Linked DNA regions of Homo sapiens. The protein of the gene in region 2 purifies or fractionates together with the protein of the main gene of each other region. This does not show direct contact. Each region holds a gene or a part of one and is shown on either strand. Other genes may lie near its edges.

Region 1 (3,653 bases), about 46 Mb from region 2:
AAATTTAGCTGGGAAATACTGAGTATTTCTAGAAGGCTCAAGGTTTAAAAAATAATTAAAGAGGTTGACTAAGAGGAAGAAACAGTGAGCTGACATGAATGGAGCAGGTGAGTCTGAGAGAGAACTGTTTGGGGTCTCTTTCTCTTAGAAATCAGTAGCAGAGGCCATGCTTGGTGGCTCACACCTGTAACCCCAGCACTTTGGGAGGCCGAGGCTGGCGGATCACTTGAGGCTAGAGTCTGAGACCAACCTGGCTAACATGGCAAAACCCATCTCCATTAAAAATAGCAAAATTAGCCAGGTATGTGGTGCACGTCTGTAGTCCCAGCTACTCGGGAGGCTGAGGCTTGAGAATCGCTTGAACCTGGGAAGTGGAGGTTGCAGTGAGCCAAGATCATGCCACTGCACTCCAGCCTGGGAGACAGAGCGAGACTCCCTCTCTCTCTCAAAAAAAAAAAAAAAAAAGAAAAAGAAAAAGAAACCAGCATCAGAAAATGTTTAGCCCTAGCCTAAAGGAAACATGATCACAAACTACAGGAAACTGAAGAGAAAACTGCCTATCCACCTCCCTCAAAAAAAGAGATTAGGAGCCTAAAAAAATTCTAAAAATACATGTAAAGCCACAGAGTCCAAATTGCAAAAATATTGCTCAAAAGACCATAAATGGGTTAAAAATAGGAAGCATGGGAGAAAAATAAATTTGTCAGCTAAAAATGTATAAAAGCTCTCTTTCCACAAATAACATTTCTAAAATAAATGTTTACTAAGCAGAGCCCCAAATACATGCCAAGCATAAAGGACAGAAAGCTATCTGCTCTTGCCTCCTGAACTCTGCACATCATGTTTCCTCCTCTACTGGAGTCAAAGACTCATCCACCCTTCAACAGATTGCTACCTATCCCTCACACCTAACGTTCGGTTAGGTCATATCTCAGCTTAGAGATCACTTCCTAGAGAAAATCCTTCCCTGACCTGGGTTAAAAGGGCTAGAGGATAAATTGGTGCTCCTCCACTAGGCTGGCGCAGAATTATTTCATTCACTCATACAACCGTACAGAGAAGGTATTACATACTGTGTATTCTTACATACCCTAAAAACACAGTAATGAAGATTACAGACTAGTTAGCCGCTCTCATAGAAATGGACATTAAGGCTGGGCGCAGTGGCTCACACCTGTAATCCCAGCACTTTGGGAGGCTGAGGCGGGTGGATCACCTGAGGTCGGGAGTTCAAGACCAGCCTGACCAACATGCAGAAACCCTGTCTCTACTAAAAATACAAAATTAGCTGGGCATGGTAGCACACGCCTGTAATCCTAGCTACTCGGGAGGCTGAGGCAGGCGAATCGCTTGAACCCAGGAGAGTGAGGCTGCAGTGAGCTGAGATTGTGCCATTGCACTCCAGCCTGGGCAACAAGAGTGAAACTCCATCTCAAAAAAAAAAAAAAAAAAAAAAAGGACATTAAACAACAATAATTACACAATTATACATCATTGTTGGGGGAAGGATAGTGTTGGAAACATACACCCAGATACACACATCCACTCTAGGATTTCTGATCCAGACTGAAAAGATCAGGGAGTTTCTCTGAAAAGTGCTTCCTACAACCCAATGTGCTAGGCTTTTGGGATGCAACAGTGAAAAACACTGAGACTATCTCTAAATTCAGAGCTGGCACCAGGACACTCAACTAATGTAGTGCCTGGTGGATGGATACACCAGCCTGTGGATGGATACAGCTGCCTGTGTCCTTGGCAGTACGTAAGAAGACACGATTTGTGCAGAGTCTACCACAGGCACCCACATTTCACCCCTACCTAGGTGAGCATGCAGTTAATAAACGTTGCATGATCTCTTCTTTGCCTTAAAGAAACTCAATCTAGGGAAGGAAAAAAGGGCTTTGCTACATTTTCTGTAATGAGAAGTTCCATATCAAATTAAGATTACTGTTGGCCAGGTGCAGTGGCCTCTAATCCCAGCACTTTGGGAGGCTGAGGCGGGCAGATATTTGAGGTCAGGAGTTTGAGACCAGCCTGGCCAATATGGCAAAACCCTGTCTCTACTAAAAATACAAAAATTAACCGGGCATGGTGGAGTGCACCTGTAATCCCAGTTACTCGGGAGGCTGAGGCAGGAGAATCGCTTGAACCCAGGAGGGAGAGGTGGCAGTGAGCTGAGATCAAGCCACTGCACTTCAGCCTGGGCAACAGAGCAAGGCTCCATCTCAAAAAAAAAAAAAAAAAAAAAAAAAAATTATTGTTAGTAGTAAACAAGATAATGTTTTTCATTTTGAAATATCTAAACTAACTTACTACTTGGTAAACATTATCTGGTTCATAGACTGTATAACCTGAAGTATAACTCAGAGTGCTCACCCTTACAATCTGAGATTGGATACCTGTAGTCTGCACACCAGGGAAACAGCCTACCTTTCATAATATATTCATTTTCTGAAGAGCCAGGAAGTGTGAGAGCTTTGAAAAGGTTTGTTAGCAGAATCTCAACAAACGGTGCGATTTCTGCAGCTGTAAAGCTATAGATGAAAAAACAGCTTTCAGTCACTACCAACTCTTGAGCTTGTCACTGCAGATTACCCTTGGCAACCACTATGTCACCCTTCTCAGCATAAAACTGAGCCATCTCCCACCACTGACAATTGATAGACAGTTTAGGAAAATAATTTTTTTACATGTGCTCATGTTAGGCTCCTAAGAAGGCACATCGAGAACCAAACACAACTGAACCAAAAAGCCAGCTAAACCCAACAACATCTGAAGTTGAAACAGTTGTCCCTGGTTTATATCTATTACCACTGAGAAAGAACTCAGAATCTCAGGGGACTCTGTCATTTATTTTGTTTTTGGAGGTGGAGCCAAGATTCAGAACTGTTTTCTGCATAAATTCTGGGCCTGAAGATAGGTACTGGCTTGACTCACCTCAAAGGATGTCCTTTCTACCCTTAATTGGCCACTGAGAGTATCTGTACTTCAAGTTCTTGATGAAGGAAAGAACCTAGAACTGTTTTCCATCTCTTACCCAAAGCTCATTTCAAGAAATAATACTGTTGAATAGTGGCCTGAAAGACATGCAGACCATCCATTCCTCTACATTTCATCCTGGTTCAGGCCAGAAGACCTATTTTCTTGGTCCCCAGTGAATTACTTTCATTCGGTTAGGTCATATCTCAGAAATAAGTGACCTTACGCAAATAGCCACATGAAAATAACTGTTACATGATTGTTGCTGAGAACACTACTACTACTATTGTACAGTATTCTCTGCTTTAACTTTTATCTCATAGACCCTGTGAAAATTTTAACTTCCCAAGTTTCCCTCTTTGCCCTGGCTGCTAAGAGACTCCAAATAAAATTTGGAGTTTCTTGGACTACTATATAGGATCCTTTGACACACATTTCTGTTTATTAACTTTATCTCAGTTACTTTCCTTGGCTCCAGTTTATTAAATTGTATTGTCATAATGCACCTATTTTAGTAAGCAGCCTCAAATGCTTTTAGAATGAAACAGAGTATAAAGGAATAGAAAGCAGACATTTGTTTTCCCACTAGTGAAATTATGAAAACATTCAGATATCTTTGACCAGCACAGTACAGCCCCTACCCCAGGCTAAAAAACTTTAGAATAAAATACTCA
Region 2 (3,653 bases):
TGGGGAGTTAAAATATATATACAGGTATGCATCACTTAACAATGGAACACATTCTGAGGATGAGTCCTGATGTGATTTCATAATTCTGCAAACATCATAAAAGGTACTTACACAAAATGAGATGGTACAGCTTGCTACGTATCTAGGCTATATTGTATAGCCTACTGCTCCTAGGCTACAAACCTGTACAGCATGTTACTGTACTGAATACTGTAAGTAACTAACACAGTGAGTATTTGTGTATTTAAACATATCTAAAAATAGAAAAGGTATAGTAAAATTATGGATTATAATCTTATGGGACCACTGTGGCATATGCAGTCTCTCCTTGATGGAAACATCGTTATACTGTGCATGACTGTATACACATTCTCAGGCCCCAACTGAGACCAATTAAATTAAAATGGCTGCGGGTGGGGCATTTGCAACCCTGATTTTTCTAAGTTCCCCAGGTGAATCTAAAGTGCAGCCTAGGCAGAGAATTACTCTGTCACTGCAAGCCACCTGCCCCTTCCTGCTCACCATGGTCAGCCAGTTTTAGGTGCTCACCAAGCTCTCAATTAGGCCTTGCTACACCAAGTGTGATCCACCCACCAGCAGCATCTGCCTCACCCAGGAGCTGGTTAGTAACACAGAATCCCAAGTCCCACCCCAAACCTACTGATTCAGGACTTGGCATTTTAACAAGATTCCCAGATGGTTCATGAGCACATTCAAGTTAGCGAAGCGCTGCCCTGAGCTACCAAATCCCTTCTCAGCTCAGGGCCTTCACAAATGTTTAACTGCAAATGTTGTTTAGCTGCTGAACTTCTCTGACACTCCCGACACCCTATTCTTCCCCTTTCATCACATCTATAATTACCATAGGTGATTTTAATGTCTGTCTACTGCACTAACCTAAAAGTGTCATGAGGACAGACATCACATCTATGTTACTCTGGGGTGTCCCCAGCTTCCGGCACAATGCCTGGTATTTCCAACTGAACAGCATCTAGCCTTATATTTTATACTGCTATGATCCTATTCTAAACTTCCACAATATTTCAATCTCATCAACCAAATCTTTCTTCAACCACAAGTTGGCTTCAGTTACATAAATCTTGGAGATAATCTATATCACAGCACTGTACTTCTTTCAAAAAATCTAAATCAGCTACTGGTCTCTTTTTCCAAAGCAATGTAAATTAAACCTAATTCAAGGTATCATTACATTTCTTTGTAATAGCACTAGATGGGTTGTCAAGAAATGGCCCCATAAATTGCTGATAGTGCTGGAAACTAGTTCAACCTTTCCAGATTGCAATTAGGCACCGAAACTGTATCCTCTGACTTGGTGAGCCCAGGTTGGGAGTAAGAGTCCAAGGAAATAATCCAAAAGAAGTATTTGAACAAGGGGTATAAAAGTACCATTTATAATAGCAAAAAGGTAGAAAAAAATAAAAGAATAAAAAGGATTGCACCAACTACAGCTGTTGGCTGAGAGTGGTGGCTCACACCTGTAATCCCAGCACTTTGGGAGGCCAAGGCGGGTGGATCACTTGAGTCCAGGAGTTCAAGACTAGCCTGGGCAACATAAAAATGTCTCTACAAAAAATAAAAAAATTAGCTGGTCGTGGTGGCACAGACCTGTGCAGTCCCAGCTATTCAGGTGGCTGAGATGGGAAGATCATTTAGCCCAGGAGGTCAAGGCTGCAGTGAGCTGTGATCATGCCACTGCACTCCAGCCAGGGTGGCAGAGTGAGACCCTGTCTCAAAAAAACAAAAACAAATTTAAAAAAAACTACAGCTGTCGATGCATGGAATACTATACTGTGATTTTTTTTTTCTTTTTTTTGAGACGGAGTCTCGCTCTGTCGCCAGGCTGGAGTACAGTGGCAAGATCTTGGCTCACTGCAACTTCCGCCTCCTGGGTTCAAGTGATTCTCATGCCTCAGCCTCCCGAGTAGCTGGGATTACAGGCACGCGCCACCACACCCAGCTAATTTTTGTATTTTTAGTAGAGATGGGGTTTCACCATGTTGGCCAGGATGGTCTTGATCTCTTGACCTCATGATCCACCTGCCTCAGCCTCCCAAAGTGCTGGGATTACAGGCGTGAGCCACCGCACCCAGCCTGTGATTTTAAATGAACAAATACTTAAATGAGTAAATATAAAATATTTTATGCTATTGAAGAATTCAAAAATCATATTCTATATGTACTGACTGCTACTATAAAAATTATGTCTTGTACACTGACACAAATGGATGTGAATTTAGAGTAAAATAAATAGTTTTACATTTAATGGATTCTCTTTTCCATAGAGAATACATTAAAATAAATTTTAATGTTGGGCTATTTTTGGGCCTGCTGTTCAGTTTTATTAAGTTAGTGTTATATTATTGCTATTTTTGTTGTACTCAGACTCACTAAAAAACCATTTCTTCACCGGGCACGGTGGCTCATGCTTGTAATCCCAGGACTTTGGGAGGCCAAGACCAGCGGATCACCTGAGGTCAGGAGTTCAAGACCAGCCTTACCAACATGGAGAAACCCCGTCTTTACTAAAAATACAAAATTAGCCAGGTACAGTGACACATGCCTGTAATCCCAGCTACTCGGGAGGCTGAGGCAGGAGAATCGCTTGAACCCAGGAGGCAAAAGTTGCGTGAGCCAAGATAGCGCCATTGCATTCCAGCCTGGGCAACAAGAGCAAAACTCCATCTCAAAAAACAAACAAACAAACAAACAAACAAAAAACATCTCTTCAGCTTTGTCATTTGGAAACATTTATTATTGCACTGGAAGTAAAATGACAAGATTCTATATTTGGCCAGTTTCCCTCTCATAACTCAAACTTCCCCTGCATCTCATTTTTTTCCATGTGAAAATGGAGAAAAATAATGCAATAATGTTTACAAACTGACACTGAGCACCTCCAATGAAAGGTGCTGGCAAATACAAACATGAGGGGTGCAAAAATACAAAACAAAACACCCACCACCACCCGCACTGATCATCCTGCACAAGTTACTTTTATCCTTCTGAGCCTCAACATCTCCCTCTGTAAATTCAAAGAAACTGGCTAGAATCGCATAGGGTGGGGGAGGATTTGTGGAGGAAAAGTAGGCATATAATAGCTGAAAAAGCATCGTAGTTGATCCTCCTGAATTCTCCAAAGATCATCTATCCAGCTATACACTTTGGGGGAGAGGATAAATTGGTACAACCCCCCAGAAACGGGTGGCAGTTTGGCTCCATGTCTGCAAATCAAAAATGCAGACATATCCCTTGACCCAGTAATTCTACTTCTAAAAGCATATTGTTCAGATAACTTTGCAAATGAGCACATAACACAGTATGTACAAGGACATTCATTGCTGTAAGAGAAGAACCTGGAAACAAATATTTAACCCAAAGATGTTACAGTACAGCCATACAACTAAATAAGTAAAAGCATGTCAACAGAAAGAACAAATAACTCTCTATATATGTTGATAATAGAATGATTTCCTAAATATGTTAAGTAAAAAAACCCAGTAAGGTGTGAGTGGTACGTCCCATGGTGGGAGGAGTATGGATAAGCAGGCACATATTTATAAAGCAACAGTGTCTATGGAAGGCCATATAAACTGAAAACTTCAGCCATCTCTGGGGAGGAGGTTAGGGAGACA
Region 3 (3,653 bases), on a different chromosome or scaffold from region 2:
CTGTAGGATCTCAAACCTAGTGTGGTTTTAATAAAACACACACAGTTTTTAGCTGGGTAGCAGCTATTTCCTTTGCATGGGCATAAAATGGAGTATTTCTGTAAGACAGGTTCCTAGGCTGGGAGTGCCTGAGTCAAAGAGCACAGTCATGTGTTGCATAAGGACAGTTCAGTCAAAGATGAACCACATATACAACCGTGGTCCCATAAGATTGTCATATACTGTATTTTTACCATACCTTTTCTATGTTTAGGTAAGTTTATATGCACAAATACTTACCATCCTGCTCTGGTTGCCTACAGTATTTGGTACAGTGCCTGCTGTACAGATTCACTGGCCAGGAGCTATAGGCCACACCCTACAGCCTAGGTGTGTAGTTGGCAGTACCATCTAAGGTTGTTAAGTAATATTCTGTGATGTTTGCACGATGACAAAAGTCATGTAAGGACACATTTCTCAGAACATACCCCCTTCGTTAAGCAACACATGACTGTCTTTGCATTGAAAATTTTGATAGATACTAACTCGCCCTTCACAAGGGTAAAAACAGTTTGCACTCTCAACAGCCATGCTCCCACCTTCTTGCTGACATTACATCTTATTCTCTGTAATGTTTGCCAATCTGATGGGGGGCGGAAAGGACCACAGTGTCAAGTGTATTTTTGGATCATAGTTTTCAAGCATATTTTTAGTACCATTTATAATTTTTTTATATGTCAATATAAAATATTTAGAAAATATTTTCTACTGGATGTTACAAATTAATCTTTATTATCTTTTCTCAGGACTTACAAAGTACCCAAGCATCTAGTCTGGAACTGACAGAGATAAGTAGAGAAAATGTAAATATTAAATCTTTTAATGAGCCACTGGTTTAAAAATGTTGTTTTAGCTGCCATGTTAATGAAATGGCAAGAAGGCTGGGTTTTTGAAAATTATGCTTTTAGAACGCAAGTAATCACTTGAAAATTGAGATACATACTTGTGGTGCCAGGCACGCAGTAAGTTTTTGCTGATGATTCACCTGTCAGTTTCTGTAACTGCCACTCACTGTTCTTATGTAAAAAGCACTCTCTCACTCTTAACTGCTGAATAGTACTGTTCTGGGGTATTTCCAAATATTGAACATCAGCCAGTGCACTGGCAAATGAACTTCCATGTGTATCTTCAACCCCTGGGAGAATAACTGCAATTTAAAAATGCGCTGTTATTAATGGAGAAAGTGAGGTCTTACCGACTGGCACGTTCACACCTCACAGACAGAACAGAATCTTAGCATTCTGGGGGCACCCTGGAAAGGACAACTAAGACACGTTTGAAGTTCATGTAGTGCTGGGTGAAGGTGGTGGCTCAGGCCTGTAGTCCCAGCGCTTTGGCTGAGGTGGGGGGATTGCTTGAGCCTAGGAGTTTGAGATCAGCCTGGGCCACATAGGGAGAACCCCATCTCTACAAAAAATTAAAAAATTATCTGGGCATGGTGGCGCATGGCTGTGATCCCAGCTTTGGGTGGCTGAAGTAGGCGGATGACTTGAGCCCAGGAGGTTGAGGCTGCAGTGAGCCATGATTGAGCCACTGCATCCCAGTGTGGATGACAGAGTAAGACCCTGTCTCTTAAAAAAATTTCATATAGTTCTATGAAAAATTATTAATTTATGGTGGAGGATAAAGGACTCAGATGAACAGGGATATCAGACTCTCTTCTCAACCCGTGTAGCCCTTCACAACACCATACCATTCCGTCATAAAGCACCAGCTGCCTGGAGGTCACACCAGAGTGGAGCAGGAACATCCCAGGCTCCGGCCAGGCTCAGCTCAGCACAACCAAGACTTCAGATTATAAACTATAATTCTTCCCCTTCTAACATTGTTGTGTTTTGTTTCTTTTCCAATAGGTTCCAAAGTCTGGCACGCCCCAGCTTGTGAGTATTTTTGCCTGGGTTATTTCATGTGGAATATTTTATAAAGTTGCATAGAAAATGAACAGTTTAAACCGTGGAGGGCAGCTTCATTCATTCCATTCCTTACTGTAGAACTGTTTCCCTACAGCCTAGTAATAGAGGAGGAGACATTTCTAAAATCGCACCCAGAACTGTCTACACCAAGAGCAAAGATTCGACTGTCAATCACACTTTGACTTGCACCAAAATACCACCTATGAACTATGTGTCAAAGGTTTGAAGAGCACCAAATTTTCTTAACTCTATATAAAAATTAAGTTGTAATGAGCTGTTACGAGTAACCTGTATCCACAATAGAGGCCCAAAGCAGCCCCCTCTGCATTTGTGTGCCGTCCCTGGACGGATTCGAGAGTCAACCAGGCCTGCCTCTGAGCCATTCCTGTGTATTTCCTCAGCACCTCCCTGCTTGGCTGCTTCCCCTTCAGGCAGAACACAGTACTGCCTCAGACCCCAGGCACAGGGGGCCTTCCTGGCGTGTTTCACTCATACAGAGGGCATCGGGTCCCACCCTGTCACTCATTTCATCGTCTAAAATGTAATCATGTGTGTTTGCTTCGAGCCAGGGACAGTGCTGCTGCAGGGGACCCAGCTGGGACCAAGGCAGACTGTCTCTCCCCTCCTGGGATTTACAGGGTCATGGCTCTGAAACATTCCGTAGTGTTCTTTGGACACGAGTTTTCCCTGGAGATCGCTTTCTGCAGGCCTCTTGGTCCTGACTGTGGCTTCTTTTCAGAGGCTGCCATTCGCTGCAAGGTTGAACACCCCCATGGGCCCTGGACGAACTGTCGTCGTTAAAGGAGAAGTGAATGCAAATGCCAAAAGGTCAGTATCCTTCGGTACCAGTCACAGTGCAGATACTTCCGTGCCTGTTACCGCCTTCCACCCGTGAACGGTCCTGTGAGCTGGAAGAAGGGCTAGCGTCAGAATCTTCATTTCCAAAGTGAGATGATTCAAGCAGGAGGTGGTTAGATTGTGAACAGCCAGTGGGCAGCAGAGCCGACTAAGGCCGTGTTCTGACCTCGGCTTTTTCTGGCCAGACAAGAGAGTAGCATTTTTGTCCACGAGGCCTATCCTTGCCTTGTAGAACTCCAGAGCAGCCCCGTAAGATCAGGCAACATCTTTTCTTTTTTTTTTTTGAGATGGAGCCTCACTGTGTCACCCAGGCTGGAGTGCAGTGTCACAATCCCAGCACACCACAACCTCCGCTTCCTGGGTGTTCAAGCCATTCTCCTACCTCAGCCTCTGGAGTAGCTGGGATTACAGGCGCACCACCACGCCCAGCTACTTTTTGAATTTTTGTATTTTTAGTAGAGACAGGGGTTCACCATGTTGGCCAGGCTGGTCTGGAACTCCTGACCTCAAGTGATCCGCCCACTTCGCCCTCCCAGTGCTGGGATTACAGGTGTGAGTCACCACGCCCAGCCCAGGCAACATTTTTTAGGGCCCCTCTTGTCATGTGATTTAGAAAATTTCTGCTTTAACAACTTTTTCCACAGACGTCCAGCCTTCTGAAAGCTTGAAATTAGAGCTATTTCCTAGAAAGTGGCATACTTTCAAGAAGGAAGGAACACGGGTAGATGATGAAAAGAGAATACCTGCTTGAGAGGATCCCAGGCTCCTGCAGCCTGAAGTAGTCATTCAGTTTAGCGTTAAACCTTCCATTTCTGTCCAACCACATCTCAGCCTCAACGCTGA

What was found.
Region 1: the proteins of PTPRA (region 2) and CSE1L purify together in Homo sapiens (affinity purification with mass spectrometry, with the first as the bait; 2 studies listed by BioGRID). This does not show direct contact.
Region 3: the proteins of PTPRA (region 2) and LGALS8 purify together in Homo sapiens (affinity purification with mass spectrometry; 3 studies listed by BioGRID and IntAct, with this or other methods). This does not show direct contact.

Annotation. Positions count from the first base shown.
Region 1 is NC_000020.11:49,084,164-49,087,816, reverse strand, and holds part of CSE1L (exportin-2), read right to left. Parts: intron 2,535-3,653; coding exon 2,431-2,534; intron 1-2,430. UniProt on the Homo sapiens protein: Export receptor for importin-alpha. Mediates importin-alpha re-export from the nucleus to the cytoplasm after import substrates (cargos) have been released into the nucleoplasm.
Region 2 is NC_000020.11:2,876,331-2,879,983, reverse strand, and holds part of PTPRA (receptor-type tyrosine-protein phosphatase alpha isoform 1 precursor), read right to left. Parts: intron 1-3,653. UniProt on the Homo sapiens protein: Tyrosine protein phosphatase which is involved in integrin-mediated focal adhesion formation.
Region 3 is NC_000001.11:236,540,869-236,544,521, forward strand, and holds part of LGALS8 (galectin-8), read left to right. Parts: intron 1-785; coding exon 786-842; intron 843-1,892; coding exon 1,893-1,919; intron 1,920-2,046; coding exon of another isoform or gene 2,047-2,172; intron 2,173-2,691; coding exon 2,692-2,780; intron 2,781-3,653.